5 linked regions of the Homo sapiens genome follow. The protein of the gene in region 3 interacts with the protein of the main gene of each other region in a pairwise test. Each region holds a gene or a part of one and is shown on either strand. Other genes may lie near its edges. The genes, in order: NBPF19, HSD17B11, TTPA, FAM25G and FAM25C.

The links.
Region 1: the proteins of TTPA (region 3) and NBPF19 interact in a two-hybrid assay, tested with the Homo sapiens proteins (one large-scale study listed by BioGRID).
Region 2: the proteins of TTPA (region 3) and HSD17B11 interact in binary tests that used the Homo sapiens proteins (3 or more experiments, as listed by UniProt).
Region 4: the proteins of TTPA (region 3) and FAM25G interact in a two-hybrid assay, tested with the Homo sapiens proteins (one large-scale study listed by BioGRID).
Region 5: the proteins of TTPA (region 3) and FAM25C interact in a two-hybrid assay, tested with the Homo sapiens proteins (one large-scale study listed by BioGRID).

Annotation. Positions count from the first base shown.
Region 1 is NC_000001.11:149,551,540-149,555,055, reverse strand, and holds part of NBPF19 (NBPF family member NBPF19), read right to left. Parts: intron 2,848-3,516; coding exon 2,796-2,847; intron 2,170-2,795; coding exon 1,997-2,169; intron 1,283-1,996; coding exon 1,174-1,282; intron 562-1,173; coding exon 318-561; 3' UTR 1-317.
Region 2 is NC_000004.12:87,374,179-87,377,694, reverse strand, and holds part of HSD17B11 (estradiol 17-beta-dehydrogenase 11 precursor), read left to right. Parts: intron 1-2,864; coding exon 2,865-2,996; intron 2,997-3,280; coding exon of another isoform or gene 3,281-3,286; exon of another isoform or gene 3,287-3,301; intron 3,302-3,516. UniProt on the Homo sapiens protein: Can convert androstan-3-alpha,17-beta-diol (3-alpha-diol) to androsterone in vitro, suggesting that it may participate in androgen metabolism during steroidogenesis.
Region 3 is NC_000008.11:63,062,054-63,065,569, reverse strand, and holds part of TTPA (alpha-tocopherol transfer protein), read left to right. Parts: intron 1-1,253; coding exon 1,254-1,364; intron 1,365-3,393; coding exon of another isoform or gene 3,394-3,516.
Region 4 is NC_000010.11:47,488,895-47,492,948, forward strand, and holds the start of FAM25G (protein FAM25G), read right to left. Parts: upstream 2,807-4,054; 5' UTR 2,781-2,806; coding exon 2,708-2,780; intron 755-2,707; coding exon 692-754; intron 1-691.
Region 5 is NC_000010.11:47,996,983-48,001,051, forward strand, and holds the start of FAM25C (protein FAM25C), read right to left. Parts: upstream 2,810-4,069; 5' UTR 2,784-2,809; coding exon 2,711-2,783; intron 758-2,710; coding exon 695-757; intron 1-694.

The sequences.
Region 1 (3,516 bases), on a different chromosome or scaffold from region 3:
AGAGACATGCCTGCAAAATGAAATCCCTGAGGAATTTTGTAGCTACCCAAAGATACGTGGTTCAAATTAAAATGTCCGACTGATCACTCCCGGCATGTGCTGCACAGTTATGTGAACGTGTCACACCTAACGTGGGTCCATTGTCTTCAGACTGAGCACAGGTTGCCACTGGCATGGTTTGAGAATAGGAAAAGAGCCATGCCCACTGACCCATCCTATGTCTGGGCTTCCAAATGGAACTGTAGTTTCATTCAAATCTTCACGTGCCTATAGGTCCTGCCTGCAGGAATGACATCTCTCGGCTTAGTAAGGGCTGCCTATTGTGGGAATATGACTAACATCTGGAACACCAGATGGAGACTTGTCACCGTCAAAGTAAAAAACCTATTGTCCAAGTAAAGGGCGAAGCTGATATGCTCTTCCTCAAATGAGTAAAACACACTTCTGTAGTGCTGGAATGAGTCAGGTAGTTCAAAGTACATTGACGGAGTCGAATAACATCCATCCAGTGAGTCCTGTAAGACTTCAGGCTCTTCCACTTCCATCAGCACGCTGTTGAGCCTGGAAAAGGAGACAAAACTAAAGAAGCAGCCAGGGAAAATCAGACACCACAGAGCCCCACTAGATTTCAGAAGTCACATAAGGAAGTGGTTAGAAAAGAAAAAGGATAGATCCATTAATGAGGTAAAAAAAAAAATTTATTGCCTTTATGTTGGGATAGAACAGGGCCAGGTAGAAAACAATGAAAGAGAAAGACAGAGAGAGAGAGACAGAGACAGAGACAGAGAGAAAGTGACCTAGTGAATTGGCCAGGTGACATACTGGTAAGGGAGTAAAAGGACACTCTGAGTTAGTGCCCTCATGACACACAGCAAACTGTGATCATGAAAAGAGTGAGCTCAATAGTTTTCCATAAAATATGCTCAAAATTCGATGCAGTGGCCATGAGAGTACAGCTTTTGAAGTATGGTCAACCTATGGTACGCTAGTAAATGATAAGGGGAGGAAGAAATGGAAACCTAAACATCTACTGCAATGAAAACCAACAGCAATGACAGTAGGAGTAATTCAGCCTTCGTTGAAAACATGACATCAAACACACTCTGGTTTCCCTGAATCTGTTGCCTCCAGGTGTTAACACAGAATTAAGCATCCACAATTGCTGAAAGTCACCTGGGGCATGGTGGGTTTTGATCTTCTTCCCCTTCTTTTCTTCCCCTTCTTCTTTCCTTCTTTGATCTTCTTCCCCTTCTTTTCTTCCCCTTCCCCTTCTTTTCAATTTCTGCAATAAATTCAGACATGGACAGACACATTAAGCTGATTCCCCTACACACATAACAATCCACTGTCTAATCCTCACACAGGGACCTCAGGCTCCTCAGCATAAGAATAGGACACTGTGAGAGATATATTTCAGGAGGCCTGAAGGCTGGTCATGATAGAAATTCCTCGGTTTTTCTCCCAGAAACTGTGGGTAAAATGTCCCTATTCTAGTAGATCGTTATCCCAATATCATTTGTCCCAAGTTTGTGCAAACAGTTATGCCATATTTTTCCAATCAATTTAAAGCAAATACCCTCAAATGATTTCTGGGAGAAAAACTGCAATATTTAGCCCTGTCTCATCAAATACTCAGATTGTTCATGGTTGTGAGGACTTTAGACACTGAAATTAGAGTGAAAAAGGAAATCTACAAACCCTTGAGTCAAAATCATAGTTCTCTGAATTTGTCACATCTGCCCAGGTCCAATGTCATGAGAGTAGAATCAGAGTGCCACAGGTATGGCCTGAGACTAGGAAGAGAGCCATGCTCACTGACCCATCCCATGTCTGGGCTTCCAGGTAGAACTAGAGTTTCATTCAACCTACATGTGCCTATAGGTCCTCACTGCGGCAATGACATCTCTCAGCTCAGTAATGGCCACTTGGAGCAGGAATATGATCTTTATATGGAAGACTCAGTGGATGCTTATCACCTTCATAGAAAGGTACTCACCTCCCACGTCAAGAGAAAAGCCAACATGTTTTTCCTCCAATGCATAAAAGGAACTTCCATAGGGCTGGCAGGAGTCAGGCTGTTCAAGACAACTGGAAGGAGTTGAATAACATCTATCCAGTGAGTCCTGCAAGACTTCAGGCTCTACTACCTCCAGCAGCTCCCTGCTGAGCCTGGAAAAGGAGGAAAAAGTAAAGAATAAGCCAGGGGAAATCACACACAACAGAGCCCCAACTAGGTTTCATGGGTAGCATAAGGAAGTGGTTAAGAAAGTAAAAGGATAGATCCATTAATGAGGTAACAAATTATTGCCTTCATGTTGGGACAGAACAGGGCCAAATGGAAAAGAATGAAAGAGAAAGACAGATAGACACACACACACACACAGACACACACACAGAGAGAGAGAGAACGAGCTCAGTGAATTGTCCAGGTGACACACTGATGAGGGAGTAACAGGACACTCTGAGTTAGTGCCCTCAGGACACACAGCATACAGTGATCATGAAAAGACTGTGCTCAATAATTTTCCATAAAATGTGTTCAAGTTTCCATGCAGTCGCCATGAGAATACAGTTTTTGAAGTCTGGTCCACCTACAGTAGGTTAGTAAATGATAAGGGGAGGAAGAAATGGAAACCTAAATATCTACTGCAATGAAAACCAACAGCAATGTTAGTAGGAATAATTCAGGCTTGCTTGAAAAGATGTAATCGATAATGTCAGCCCGCTCTGTTTTCCCTGAACCAGGAGTCTCCAGATGTCAACACAGAAGTAGCTGTTCACAATTGCTCAGTTACCTGGGGCATGGTGGGCCTTGGTCTTCTTCCTCTTCTTGGTCCTTTTTAATTCCTGCAATACATTCAGACAGGGACAGACAAAATAAGCCAATTCACCTACACCCATAACAGTCCACTGTCTAATCCCCACACAGGGATCTCAGGCTCCTCAGCATGAGAACAGGACAATGTGAGAGATATACTTCAGGAGGCCTGAAAGCTGGTCATGATATTCTTTGGTTTGCATCTCAGAACCAAGGGTGAAATATCCCCATTCTGGAAGATCGTTATCCCAAAATCACTTATCCCAAGTTTGTGCAAACAGTTATGCCTTATTGTTCCCATCAGTTCAAAGAAAATGCCCCAGATGATTTCTAGGAGGAAAACTGCAGTATTCAGCCCTGTCTCATCAAATGCCCAGCTCGTTCATGGATGTAAGAATTTTAGACACTGAAATTAGAATGAAGGAGGAAATCTACAAACCCTTGAGTCCAAATCATAGTTCTGTGAATTTTTTACATCTGCCTGGGTCCAATGTGCTGAGAGCGGGCTCAGGTTGCCACAGGCATGGCTGGAGACTAGGAATAGAGCCTTGCTCACTGACCCATTTCATGTCTAGGCTTCCAACTGAGACTACAGTTTCATTACAACCTATATGCGCCCATAGGTCCTGCCTGCGGCAATGACATCTCTCGGGTCAGTAAGGGCCACTTGGAACAGGAATATCACCCCTATCTGGAAG
Region 2 (3,516 bases), on a different chromosome or scaffold from region 3:
AAGCATCTTAGTTGCTTATGGAACCATAAAAATCTCATATAAGGTATTTTTGCATTGCTACCCCTTGGAATTATGGTACTCCAATCTTATAAAAAGTAGGGCTTAAGCATCAAGATTCTATGATCTTTCTTAGTTGAAGAGATAGTTATTGATTATATTCTAGTCCAGAAGATATAACAATTATTTTGAAAAAAAGTTACATTACCTGTAATGGTCCCCTTTTGAGTATAGTCTTTTTTTTTTTTGAGACAGAGTCTCGCTCTGTCGCTCAGGCTAGAGCACAGTGGCGCAATCTCAGCTCACTGCAACCTCCGCCTCCCGGGTTCAGGCGATTCTCCTGCCTCAGCCTCCTGAGCAGCTGGGATTACAGGTGCACGTCACCACGCCTAGCTAATTTTTGTACTTTTAGTAGAGACTGGGTTTCACCATGTTGGTCAGGCTGGTCTTGAACTCCTGACCTCATGATCCACCTGCCTCAGCCTCCCAAAGTGCTGGGATTACAGGTGTGAGCCACTGTGCCCGGCCTACAAATAGTCTTTTTTTAAAAATATTTTTCTTTCTTTTTGAGACAGAGTCTTGCTCTGTCACCCAGGCGGGCGTGCAATGGTGCAATCTCAGCTCACTGCAACCTCCACCTCCCAGGTGCAAGCAATCCTCCCAGTTCAACCTTCCGAGTAGCTGGGACTACAGGAACCCACCACCACACTCACCTAATTTTTGTGTTTTCAATAGAGATGCAGTTTCACCATGTCAATCAGGCTGGTCTTGAACTCCTGGCCTCAAGTGATCCACCCACCTTGGCCTCCCAAAGTGCTGGGAATATAGATGTGAGCCACCGTGCCCAGCCTACAAATAGTCTTTACAGTCCAGTGGATGCCTTCTATTGCTCTTAGCAGCTAGCCTTGTTCTTTTGTTTATATTTCCTCAACTGAAATCATTTCACCAATGATAGCTGCAACAACCTTTGAAATCTGGCCATAAGGGTTTACATAAGCCCTTCCACATAACCATTTTATTTCTCAAATGTTCTTCCTTCTGGATCAATACCAAAATAGAATTTTCAAGAGAAAACACACATACCATGCATATATATTAGAAAAACACACATATGTATTTTAATATTATTTACCTCATATTTCTATATTTTGGGGGTTTTTTGTTTGTTTTTTGGGTTTTTTTTTTTTTTTTTTTGAGATGAAATCTCGTCTGTCACCCAGGCTGCAGCACAGTGGCACGATCTCAGCTCACTGCAACCTCCGCCTCCTGGGTTCAAGCGATTCTCCTGCCTCAGCCTCTCGAGTAGCTGGGATTACAGGCGTACACCACCATGCCCCACTAATTTTTGTATTTTTAGTAGAGATGGGGTTTCACCATGTGGGTCAGGCTGGTCTCCGATTCCTGACCTCAAGTGATCTGCCTGCCTTGGCCTCCCAAATGCTGGGATTAGAGGCGTGAGCCACCTCATTTGGCCAATATTTGTATATTAAGTACCCTCATAGACACCTGAGCAGGTCAAGAAGAGAATCTTAAAACATGTTACTTGTAGACAAGTATAAATGGTTTTGAAATAATTATAATGATAGTAATAGCAGTTTACTGTGTGTACTAGATACAGTGTTAGCTCCTTTACATGCATTATTTCATTTGTTTCCACAACGACTCACAAGGAACTTGTATTAGTATCTCTATTTTGCAGAGGAAGAATTGAAGTTTTAAGAGGTTAAGTAACTTGGTCAAGGTCCAACAGTGACTGGCAGAGCCCAAACTCAAGGTCCAAGGAAACCACTCTTCACCCTTAAGCCTACTGCCACCTAATGGAGAGCGATTGAACAACAGAACAGAAAATAAACAGAAATAAATAGAAAATGTGGCCAGCTTAATAGTGTAATCAGTTTTCCACAATTCTCTGTAGTAGTCCCTGATTTTGCCACATTAGTTTTACTTTTATTTTTTGAGACGGAGTTTTGCTTTTGTTGCCCAGGCCGGAGTGCGATGGCGCGATCTCAGCTCACCGCAACTTCCGCCTCTCGGGTTCAAGCGATTCTCCTGCCTCAGCCTCCTGAGTAGCTGGGATTATAGGCGCCCGCCACCATGTACAGCTAATTTTGTATTTTTAGTAGAGACAGGGTTTCTCCATGTTGGTCATGCTGGTCTCAAACTCCGGACCACAGGTGATCCACCTGCCTCGGCCTCCCAAAATACTGGGATTACAGGCGTGAGCCACCGCACCCAGCCTAATTTAACTTTTTTTGCTTACCCTTTGAAGTAATGTTTTAAAAAAAATGCTACTTAGCCAAATGCCTCTTGATCTATAGTCAATAGAACTAAGTCAAGAGACTAAATTGCAAAAGAAAATTTCCACCTGATACACTTGAAGATAGATCTATTTTGGACATAAGTGCATAAAATAAAAAGGATTTTTTTCCCCTGTTGACACATGGATTGCAAAATCACTTTTATCCAGATCTAGCAGAAAAACAAGAGTCATTGCGTACAAGACGGGAACAGTGACTCATGCCTGTAATCCCAGCACTTTGGGAGGCTGAGGTGGGCAGATCACTTGAGATCAGGAGTTCAAGACTAGCCTAGCTAACATGGTGAAATCCAATCTCTACTAAAAATATAAAAATTAGCCAGGTGTGGCGTGGTTGCATGAGCCTTCAGTCCCTGCTACTTGGGAAGCTGAGGCCAGAGAATCTCTTGAACCCGGGAGGTGGAGGTTGCAGTGAGCCAAGATTTCGCCACTGTACTGCAGCCTGGGCAACAGAGCAAGAATCCGTCTCAAAAAAAAAAAATAGCCATTGTGTATAAACTTACCCTCATACCTCTTAATGAATTTACTTTTCTTATTTTATTTTTTGAAGGTGAAGGCAGAAATTGGAGATGTTAGTATTTTAGTAAATAATGCTGGTGTAGTCTATACATCAGATTTGTTTGCTACACAAGATCCTCAGATTGAAAAGACTTTTGAAGTTAATGTACTTGCACATTTCTGGGTGAGTATGGCTTCTTTTACAAAAATGTTCCTTTTGAAAATCCCAAAGATTAAAGTGGGGCTTTTAGCAGACATAAGGAAGTATTAAATCAATGCTAAAGTTTTCTCCAGGCACCAGGGATAACATTATACAAAGAGATCATTTTTCATGCTATGACCAAATTCTATCATTCTTCCTCACTGACAACATTAATAATAACAATAATAAATTAATAATAAATGTCAGGTGTTGTATATGTTTTAATTCTAAGCTAGGTTCTCACATTTCTGTGTGATCCTATTTAGAGATAAAGAAAGGAGTTGGGGACCATCCGAGTCATCGTCTGTGATTTTATAAAGGTGAATCCAGTTTGCTTTCAGATTCTCTTTTTTCTTTTTTAGACAGGGTCTCACTCTGTTGCCAAGGCTGGAGTGCAGTGATGCAATCTCATCTCACTGCAGCCCCAACTTCCCAGGCTCAAGTGATCCTCCCACCTCAGCCCCCTCAAGTAGCTGGGACTACAGGCATTAACATGCCCAGC
Region 3 (3,516 bases):
GTCACATAAGTCTTGGTAGGTGTATATTGATATCTTTTTTTTCCAAAAGGTTTTTAAAGTGGTCATCATCTTTGACTCAGTAATTCTATTTCTGGGAAACTAGCTAAGGAATAATCTTTAATATATTAAAGATTGCGTATAATAATAATAGCTTACTATGTGCCAGGTACTTTGCTAAGTGTTTCAAATGCATTATCTTTTAATGTCCACACTGAGCCTATGACATATGACTATTGTATTTTCCCACTTTACAATTAATAAACTATATCCGAGAAGTGACATAGCGATGCCCAGGCACACACAGTTTGCCAGTAGTGAAGTGAGAATTCCAGCCCAGGTCACCTGAATGTAAAAGTCGTGCTTATAACCACCACTTCTCCTATACACAAAGACAGTTACTGCAGCATCAATTTCAGTAAAGAAGTAAAATAAATAGTTTATTAGTCCAGAAAATAGAAACATGGTTACTTAAAAAATGTACATTCATTTGATGGATTCTTGCAACAATAATAAAACATGATATTTGCAAAAGCTGTATTGTATCAGTGGAACACAACGGGATGAAAATTATTTAGAAAGTATATTAGCAATTATGTTTAAAAGAAAATTATGCATAGAAGGGATTTGGAAGGACAATCCCCAAATTAATAATACATCTCTGAAAGTGATGCATGGAAAAAATAAAAGAACTTCACATAAAAGAACCTTGGAATGAAAGGTCTCTGTATTAATAATACAACTTGTAGGTAGGAAAACCATCTTTTTCCTTCAACTCTTAACTTCTTAAACTTTCTAAATAAGCCTATATTACTTTGATGCTAAAGACATATACCAATGTCAAAGTTTAAAAGTGTGTGTTTATTGTGCTAGTCTTTCAATATTTGTGATTTTTTTTCTCAAAATAAACATTTTTTGGGAAAAAGTTAAATATAAATTTCCAAATGACTCATTGGTTCGTTAAAAGAACATCTATATGTGATGGGAAAGGAATTTTCTGGTGAAAGTGTGCAGATATTTTGTAAAATACTTTGCCAAATCTATAAGGAGAAACCTTTTTAGAGATCTTTACTTAATCTAGTGACAGTGAACTGTAAGCCAGGCTTTTGTGCTGATGGAATAAATAATTTTGAAGATAAAATCACACACTTTAGATATTTCCATAAGCTTAGCAAGTGTTCAAAGAAGAAACTTGACATTAGGTATCAGATTGTAATATTTATGTTTTGTTATTAAGATTTTTTTATTTTCAAAAGGATTCATTTCCATTGAAAGTTCGTGGCATCCATTTGATAAATGAACCAGTAATTTTCCATGCTGTCTTTTCCATGATCAAACCATTCCTGACTGAAAAAATTAAGGAACGGGTGAGTAAAATATATTCAAGTCTGTGTTCCTCTACACCAAACATTCCAACCCTTTTTAATTTAAGGATTGCTTTATCATCTTTCCTCGTACCTGCCCATCTATATCATTAGCCCAATATTTTGAATATTTATCTAACAAGCCAACTAAAAAAAAGTAAATTAAAATTTACTTTTAATTTATAAAAATCAAGTATATTGGTTGTAAGACTGTGGGGTAACTGGGCTTTTCATACACTGCTGGTTGGAATGCTTAATGGTATATTCCTATAGAGGGCAGTGTGGCAAAGACATCAAAATCACTGTCTTGAATTACCTATACCTAAACAAAATTACATATGCTAGAGGAGTCACAGCAGCAGAAGACTGAAAACCAGGAAGTGTTCACCATTAGGGCATTGGTTAAATAAACATCTACACAACAGAAAACAACGAGATTGCAGGATGTTTTGTAAACTGAAATAAACAAAATGTGGAATAGTGTTTATGGCATGCTACCTTTTGTATACAAAGGGGAGAAATAAGAATATATTTCATAAATTTACATTAAAAGGATATACAAAAAATAATATAAGTGGATATCTATAGGGAACAAGAGAAGAGGTGTGAACTACAGTAGATGAGAATAGGTTTGGGAGCAAGATCTCTCACTGTGTATCTTTTATCTTGTTTTGATTTGTAACCATATGAATTTATTATTAATGCAAATAAAAATAAACATTTTTCTTAAACAGTGAAGCCTACTTAACGGTTTCAGTGTAACTGAGAACCACGGTAACTGAGGTATATGACTTAATGTCATGCTAGTTAGAGCAAAGATACTGGATTTTTTCTTCTTTACCTAGCCTATGGAGCCTTATCTCAGAAAAAGCATCTCATATATCTTAGACTTTTTGAAAGGTTGAAAATAGAGTCTGCGTTCTCAAGAATGGCAACCATTCTAAACTAATCTGTAAAGAAGAATTTTTAGAGCATCTATTTAGACAAACATTGGCATCATCTAATGCCTTGAACACAAAACAATTTGTAAAGGTTTTAACAGTTTAAATCTAAAAAATCACTGAAATGTCAGCAGTGATAATATAAACTGTAATAGCACATTTGGAATTTTAGAAACGATGTTCTTTCATATTAAGAAAATATAACATCTTATACCTGGTCAGAAAGTTATGACCCTAGAGCTTCTTTAGAGGTTATGCAGTGGATGCTTCTGTTTGTCTTCAAGAACCACCCTTAAATTGCCTGCTTTAGCAAAAATGGCCACTTTCAGCTACTTTTCATTCTAGTATTTTTATACAAATCAATTTTGTTTGTTCATTTTTTTCTCTCTTCAGTGTAACTTGATAATATCTGGCTTCCCTCTGTTTAATTCTTAGAGATCTAAAAATAACTATTTCTATTTTGAGTAATATTTTAGATAAAAACAAAAACAAGAATAAACTGAACCTAAGAAATAGGAGAATATGGAGAAAAAAGCAAAAGTAAAAAGTTGAGAAGTTAGGGGAAGGATGTCAGTGAAAGTTAGTTGACGGGAAACAGACTTGCCAAAATAGGGAGAAAAAAACTCTGATCCAGCCACTTTTTTCCTTTTTAACTTTTTGGCAATGCCCCATACATTTTCTTATTTTGCCCCTTCCTGAGGAGATAGAATTTCTTCTCAATTACCTGATAATATTTTACATATTTCAGAAAAAATTAAAGATTGGCTTTGTGAGTTTCCTAAGTGAGTATAGGAAACTCATTTCATCCATCAAACCTCATATCCCAGCACATAATAGATGCTTATTAAATGATTGTTGAATACATAGAGGAACATTTTGCCCTAGAAAGTGAAAAAAGGTTATTTATTTATTTTAGCAGGTATGCTTTTGGTTCAAGTTTCTACGGCTTTCTCTTAACTTCAGGGCATTCTATGATCAATTTTATAGTTTAAAATATTTGAAAAGTTAAGGTTCTCAACTATCATAATTGTTTTTTAATACTTTTTTAAAATTTGACTTTTTAATTCTTTTAATTCTTTTTTTTTTTTTAGACAGGGCCTCACTTTGTGCAGTGGCACGATCTTGGCTCACTGCAACCTCCACCTCCTGGGCTCAAGCAATCCTCCTGCCTCAGCCCACCAAGTATCTGGGACTACAGTCCTGCACCACCACGC
Region 4 (4,054 bases), on a different chromosome or scaffold from region 3:
TTTTTTGTATTTTTAGTAGAGATGCGGTTTCACCGTGGTCTGGATCTCCTGACCTCATGATCCGCCCACCTCAGCCTCCCAAAGTGCTGGGATTACAGGCGTGAGCCACCGCCCCCAGCAATTATTTTTTTCTTTTTTTTTGAGACCGAGTCTTGCTCTGTAGCCCAGGCTGGAGTGCAGTGGCATGATCTAGGCTCACTGCAAGCTCTGCCTCCCAGGTACACACCATTCTCCTGCCTCAGCCTCCCAAGTAGCTGGGACTATAGGCACCCACCACCATGCCCGGCTAATTTTTATGTATTTTTAGTAGAGACGGGGTTTCACCGTGTTAGCCAGGATGGTCTCGATCTCCTGACCTCATGATCCGCCCTCCTCAGCCTCCCAAAGTGCTGGGATTACAGGCATGAGCCACCGCACCCTGCCATGTTAAATGTTTTGTCCCAGTGTGCTGTCACATAGTCTTGTGTGACTTTGTCTTCTTATTCCACAGAGAGAACCATCTAGACAGTGTCCTAACGCAGTACAGTCTGTGGCCTCTGATGAGCATAGATAACTGCCCCAGCCAAGAGGCTCTGAAAGGCTGCAACATTAGGGGCAGAGTTTGACCTGGTTAGTCAAAGAACAGGTTGGCCCAGCACCTAGCTTCCCTTCCTCCCTCCCTCCTTCCCTGCCCGACCTCAGCCGGCTGTACCTTTCTCTCCAGTCTCCTTGGCATGTCCCACCACCTCCTTCACCACTTCCTCCACGGCATGAACTGAACAGAGGAGACAAGTCCAGGGTGAGGGCTCAGAGCAGGCCGGCTGCCCCCGAGTCCAGGGTGAGGGTTCAGAGCAGAGCCGCTGCCCTCCCAGTCCAGGGTGAGGGCTCAGAGCAGGCCCACTGCCCTCCCAGTCCAGGGTGAGGGCTCAGGGCTGGCTTATCCTCACAACAGACCTATACATCCCTGGGCATCCTAGATGGGGCTCTGGGGTGCCACCCCCAGCCAGGACAGACTGACTCATGAGAAGGACCTTCCCCCACAGCTGGCTTCATTTGGAGACGCCAGGGCCTTGGCTGCTGGGAGACGAGCTCAATGAGCCCCATGAGGGCATGGGTCCCTGAAGCCCCTTGGCCCTGCCCGGCCTGGAATGGCAATGAGCAGGCAGTCTTGCCAGCTGAGACATGAAGCCCAGGCTGGGCCTGTGTGCCAGGTCACACCCCTCTCAGGATGTGCTAGCGCCTGCCTCAGGTTGGTTTCCAAAGCCTCATCCACTAAGACCAGGTCTCTCAAAGCAATTCCTCCAACAAAACGGAATTCTCTGCCTACTTCAGAGTTTTTTAAAGTGTGGGTGGTAGCGTGCTAGAACTGAAGGATTTCAGAGTCAGAAGAAATGGTTCTTATTCTAACTCTACCTTCCACCTCTTGGTTCCCTCATCTTTAGAATGGGAATCTGTTGGGATGATGAGACCCAACACCAGGTCACGGGGGCGGCAAGTCCAGCGGAGTCAAAGGAATGACAAAGAGACAGTTCGAGAGAGAAAATGGGAGCAGGGCGCTATCGCGAGTGTGGAGGCTGCGAAGGCCCCGAGTTCTGGGAGCCCACGCTATTTATTGGTGATCTAACAAAGAAACAGGTGGTGAGGATGTGGAGGTTGAAAGGAAACAGTGTATCAAGTGAATGAGAAACATATGGCTACTTGAGAGAATGGCAGTGCTAGAAGCAAGGAGCCAGCAAGTCTAGCAAGCCCTGCCTCAGCTTTTCTCCCAACGCTGAGCTTTTCTCCCAACAGGAATCATAAAAAACTCAGAGGCTAGTGAAAGGTTAAAGCAGGTGGTCCACACCAGCTGCAGAGTCAAAAACAAAATACGCATCTGCTGCCATTTAGAAAGAGGACACAAACTCAGGCAAGACTTTTTCACACGATGACCCATGAGTGGGGCCTGGCTGGGCCTCCCCACACATACCTGCTGACCTCTGAATACAACATACACTTCGGGACCAGGTGCAGTGGTTCACGCCTGTAATCCCAGCACTTTGGGAGGCCAAGAGGAATGGATCACTTGAGGTCAGGAGTTTGAGACCAGCCTGGCCAAAATGGCGAAACCCCGTCTCTGCTAAAAATACAAAAATTAGTCGGGCGTGGTGGTGGGTGCCTGTAATCCCAGCTACTCAGGAGGCTGAGGCATGAGAATCACTTTGAACCCAGGAGGCAAAGGTTACAGTGAGCCGAGATCGCACCACTACACTCCAGCCTGGGTGCCAGAGCAAGACTCCATTTCAAATACAAATACAAATAAAAATAAACATGCTTTAGGGGACTTGGATGAAATTGAAAATGCCCTTTTTGACTTTGAACAGACTTGGTGACTTGTTAAGAAATCTTTGAAGCTTTAAAGTTATGGTAAAAATAAAAATCCATCTTCCTTTTCCTGCATAGGTTATTCAGAATAGGCTGTTTTGACAAGAAAGGCTCCCCAGATTTCCAGAGGGAAGGGTCCAAGCTGCCAGTGTTCACCCAGCACCAGGACTCATGCCCTGCCCCCAGGAGACCTCCCCAGGTCTGCACCCCTCAACTCCGTGCTGACTTGGTAGAGCAGGAGACCAGGGTTCCTGAGGGGCCAAGGCCTCCCCGCAGGTCCTCGCCTGCCTACGTAGATCCGCCTCCCACAGACCCAGTCTGCCCCAGATCCCCCCAGCCCAGGTAGAAAGGAGCCCTGGGTCCTCACTGGCTCCCTCGGTGGCCTTCTCGGTGCGGTGGGCCAGGCCCTCGGCAGCCAGCTTCCCCAGGCCTCCCAGCATCGTGTGGCAGCAGACAGTGGCGAACTAGGATGCTGAGGACTGGCCCAACATGCTTTTATAGCTGCCTCTGGTGCCTATCTAGGCTCTGGGGCAATAAGCCCTCACCCCAGCCCAGTAGGAGGCTGGACAGGTGAGTCAGTGAGGGCGGCAGCAGGAAGGGGCTGGGCGGAGCCACCCTGGAACTAGGGTGGCAGCATCCCCTGACAGCATGAGGCTTCTGTAACCCTGTCCTAGGGACCCCGTGAAGGATAGGGGCAGGGAGCAGGGCTGGACAGTAGAGATCTGGACATGCTTCTTCCTTGAGGCAGAGGGCCTGAGTGCCAGCCCCCCTGAGACCAAAGCTTCCCAAGCCTGGGTACTGATATGTACCTGGAGACAAGGCCTAGGATTCCAAGCCTGCTGCTCAAGGTCCCCAGTGTGGCCTAGTAAGAGGTTTGGGGGTTCTATGGGCCTGGAGACCTGGGCAGTCCTTTGAGTCATGAACACAAGTGGAATGAGGGTGACTGCCCTCCCCATTCCTGGAGACCCTGGCTCTGCAGAGCAGTTTGCGGCCTCCATGGGACAGGGTGGGGCGTTCAGGGTGGTGCCTTGCCCGAGTCAGAGGGGGGCACAGCACTGGGCAGAAGCGTAGTCACCTGGTGTCGCTCAGCTGATGCTCACTCACCCAAGAGGCTCTGTGAGGTCAGCAGTGCCCTCCTATCCCCTGGCAGTCCTGGAGGAGTAGACAGAGGCCTCCACCACCACTCAGGGAGATGCTTCTGGCCTTAGCTAGAATCCCCTAGGAAGCAGCTTCCCTGGCTCCTGGTGCATCGCATGAGGAGTGGCAGGGCTGCTCCCTAGTTACTCATGATGGACAGACATGCCTCAAGCCACCTGCCACATGCTGCTTCCCTTAGTCACCAGCCCAACCTGAGCCTCCGTTTCCTCATCTGTAAAATGGGCATAGCGTGCCTTCTTGGCTGTGTCCCTAATCATCCCTGAGGCAAAGCATGCAAGCTCCTGGTAAACACCTGTTCCCTCCACTCATCATTGAGGTGCCCTTTGGCAGTGAGCTCTGACCAACTGGTAGGGTGTGCCAAGGAGTGACTGGGACGTGAGGCTGCCTTGGAGCCAGAGGGCTGGGGAATGTGACTTCTGCTGGCCAGGAGCCAAGGAGAGGTCTTCCCATGCTCCTACTTCTGGGGTGCAGGCCTGTGGCAGGGGTCTGAGGCTCTCTCCCCAATGCAGGCTCCTGGAGCTGCTCTCCTGGATGTGTCGGGGCCTGATTAGTTTAC
Region 5 (4,069 bases), on a different chromosome or scaffold from region 3:
CACCGTGCCCAGCTAATTTTTTGTATTTTTAGTAGAGATGGGGTTTCACCGTGGTCTGGATCTCCTGACCTCATGATCCGCCCACCTCAGCCTCCCAAAGTGCTGGGATTACAGGCGTGAGCCACCGCCCCCAGCAATTTTTTTGAGACCGAGTTTCGCTCTGTAGCCCAGGCTGGAGTGCAGTGGCATGATCTAGGCTCACTGCAAGCTCTGCCTCCCAGGTACACACCATTCTCCTGCCTCAGCCTCCCAAGTAGCTGGGACTATAGGCACCCACCACCATGCCCGGCTAATTTTTATGTATTTTTAGTAGAGACGGGGTTTCACCGTGTTAGCCAGGATGGTCTCGATCTCCTGACCTCGTGATCCGCCCTCCTCAGCCTCCCAAAGTGCTGGGATTACAGGCATGAGCCACCGTGCCCTGCCATGTTAAATGTTTTGTCCCAGTGTGCTGTCACATAGTCTTGTGTGACTTTGTCTTCTTATTCCACAGAGAGAACCATCTAGACAGTGTCCTAACGCAGTACGGTCTGTGGCCTCTGATGAGCATAGATAACTGCCCCAGCCAAGAGGCTCTGAAAGGCTGCAACATTAGGGGCAGAGTTTGACCTGGTTAGTCAAAGAACAGGTTGGCCCAGCACCTAGCTTCCCTTCCTCCCTCCCTCCTTCCCTGCCCGACCTCAGCCGGCTGTACCTTTCTCTCCAGTCTCCTTGGCATGTCCCACCACCTCCTTCACCACTTCCTCCACGGCATGAACTGAACAGAGGAGACAAGTCCAGGGTGAGGGCTCAGAGCAGGCCGGCTGCCCCTGAGTCCAGGGTGAGGGTTCAGAGCAGAGCCGCTGCCCTCCCAGTCCAGGGTGAGGGCTCAGAGCAGGCCCACTGCCCTCCCAGTCCAGGGTGAGGGCTCAGGGCTGGCTTATCCTCACAACAGACCTATACATCCCTGGGCATCCTAGATGGGGCTCTGGGATGCCACCCCCAGCCAGGACAGACTGGCTCATGAGAAGGACCTTCCCCCACAGCTGGCTTCATTTGGAGACGCCAGGGCCTTGGCTACCGGGAGACGAGCTCAGTGAGCCCCATGAGGGCATGGGTCCCTGAAGCCCCTTGGCCCTGCCCGGCCTGGAATGGCAATGAGCAGGCAGTCTTGCCAGCTGAGACATGAAACCCAGGCTGGGCCTGTGTGCCAGGTCACACCCCTCTCAGGATGTGCTAGCGCCTGCCTCAGGTTGGTTTCCAAAGCCTCATCCACTAAGACCAGGTCTCTCAAAGCAATTCCTCCAACAAAACGGAATTCTCTGCCTACTTCAGAGTTTTTTAAAGTGTGGGTGGTAGTGTGCTAGAACTGAAGGATTTCAGAGTCAGAAGAAATGGTTCTTATTCTAACTCTACCTTCCACCTCTTGGTTCCCTCATCTTTAGAATGGGAATCTGTTGGGATGATGAGACCCAACACCAGGTCACGGGGGCGGCAAGTCCAGCGGAGTCAAAGGAATGAGAAAGAGACAGTTCGAGAGAGAAAATGGGAGCAGGGCGCTATCGCGAGTGTGGAGGCTGCGAAGGCCCCGAGTTCTGGGAGCCCACGCTATTTATTGGTGATCTAACAAAGAAACAGGTGGTGAGGATGTGGAGGTTGAAAGGCAACAGTGTATCAAGTGAATGAGAAACATATGGCTACTTGAGAGAATGGCAGTGCTAGAAGCAAGGAGCCAGCAAGTCTAGCAAGCCCTGCCTCAGCTTTTCTCCCAACACTCAGCTTTTCTCCCAACAGGAATCATAGAAAACTCAGAGGCTAGTGAAAGGTTAAAGCAGGTGGTCCACACCAGCTGCAGAGTCAAAAACAAAATACGCATCTGCTGCCATTTAGAAAGAGGACACAAACTCAGGCAAGACTTTTTCACACGATGACCCATGAGTGGGGCCTGGCTGGGCCTCCCCACACATACCTGCTGACCTCTGAATACAACATACACTTCGGGACCAGGTGCAGTGGTTCACGCCTGTAATCCCAGCACTTTGGGAGGCCAAGAGGAATGGATCACTTGAGGGCAGGAGTTTGAGACCAGCCTGGCCAAAATGGCGAAACCCCGTCTCTGCTAAAAATACAAAAATTAGTCGGGCGTGGTGGTGGGTGCCTGTAATCCCAGCTACTCAGGAGGCTGAGGCATGAGAATCACTTTGAACCCAGGAGGCAAAGGTTACAGTGAGCCGAGATCGCACCACTACACTCCAGCCTGGGTGCCAGAGCAAGACTCCATTTCAAATACAAATACAAATAAAAATAAACATGCTTTAGGGGACTTGGATGAAATTGAAAATGCCCTTTTTGACTTTGAACAGACTTGGTGACTTGTTAAGAAATCTTTGAAGCTTTAAAGTTATGGTAAAAATAAAAATCCATCTTCCTTTTCCTGCATAGGTTATTCAGAATAGGCTGTTTTGACAAGAAAGGCTCCCCAGATTTCCAGAGGGAAGGGTCCAAGCTGCCAGTGTTCACCCAGCACCAGGACTCATGCCCTGCCCCCAGGAGACCTCCCCAGGTCTGCACCCCTCAACTCCGTGCTGACTTGGTAGAGCAGGAGACCAGGGTTCCTGAGGGGCCAAGGCCTCCCCGCAGGTCCTCGCCTGCCTACGTAGATCCGCCTCCCACAGACCCAGTCTGCCCCAGATCCCCCCAGCCCAGGTAGAAAGGAGCCCCGGGTCCTCACTGGCTCCCTCGGTGGCCTTCTCGGTGCGGTGGGCCAGGCCCTCGGCAGCCAGCTTCCCCAGGCCTCCCAGCATCGTGTGGCAGCAGACAGTGGCGAACTAGGATGCTGAGGACTGGCCCAACATGCTTTTATAGCTGCCTCTGGTGTCTGTCTAGGCTCTGGGGCAATAAGCCCTCACCCCAGCCCAGTAGGAGGCTGGACAGGTGAGTCAGTGAGGGCGGCAGCAGGAAGGGGCTGGGCGGAGCCACCCTGGAACTAGGGTGGCAGCATCCCCTGACAGCATGAGGCTTCTGTAACCCTGTCCTAGGGACCCCGTGAAGGATAGGGGCAGGGAGCAGGGCTGGACAGTAGAGATCTGGACATGCTTCTTCCTTGAGGCAGAGGGCCTGAGTGCCAGCCCCCCTGAGACCAAAGCTTCCCAAGCCTGGGTACTGATATGTACCTGGAGACAAGGCCTAGGATTCCAAGCCTGCTGCTCAAGGTCCCCAGTGTGGCCTAGTAAGAGGTTTGGGGGTTCTATGGGCCTGGAGACCTGGGCAGTCCTTTGGGTCATGAACACAAGTGGAATGAGGGTGACTGCCCTCCCCATTCCTGGAGACCCTGGCTCTGCAGAGCAGTTTGCGGCCTCCATGGGACAGGGTGGGGCGTTCAGGGTGGTGCCTTGCCCGAGTCAGAGGGGGGCACAGCACTGGGCAGAAGCGTAGTCACCTGGTGTCACTCAGCTGATGCTCACTCACCCAAGAGGCTCTGTGAGGTCAGCAGTGCCCTCCTATCCCCTGGCAGTCCTGGAGGAGTAGACAGAGGCCTCCACCACCACTCAGGGAGATGCTTCTGGCCTTAGCTAGAATCCCCTAGGAAGCAGCTTCCCTGGCTCCTGGTGCATCGCATGAGGAGTGGCAGGGCTGCTCCCTAGTTACTCATGATGGACAGACATGCCTCAAGCCACCTGCCACATGCTGCTTCCCTTAGTCACCAGCCCAACCTGAGCCTCCGTTTCCTCATCTGTAAAATGGGCATAGCGTGTCTTCTTGGCTGTGTCCCTAATCATCCCTGAGACAAAGCATGCAAGCTCCTGGTAAACACCTGTTCCCTCCACTCATCATTGAGGTGCCCTTTGGCAGTGAGCTCTGACCAACTGGTAGGGTGTGCCAAGGAGTGACTGGGACGTGAGGCTGCCTTGGAGCCAGAGGGCTGGGGAATGTGACTTCTGCTGGCCAGGAGCCAAGGAGAGGTCTTCCCATGCTCCTACTTCTGGGGTGCAGGCCTGTGGCAGGGGTCTGAGGCTCTCTCCCCAATGCAGGCTCCTGGAGCTGCTCTCCTGGATGTGTCGGGGCCTGATTAGTTTACTGGACTGTGGGC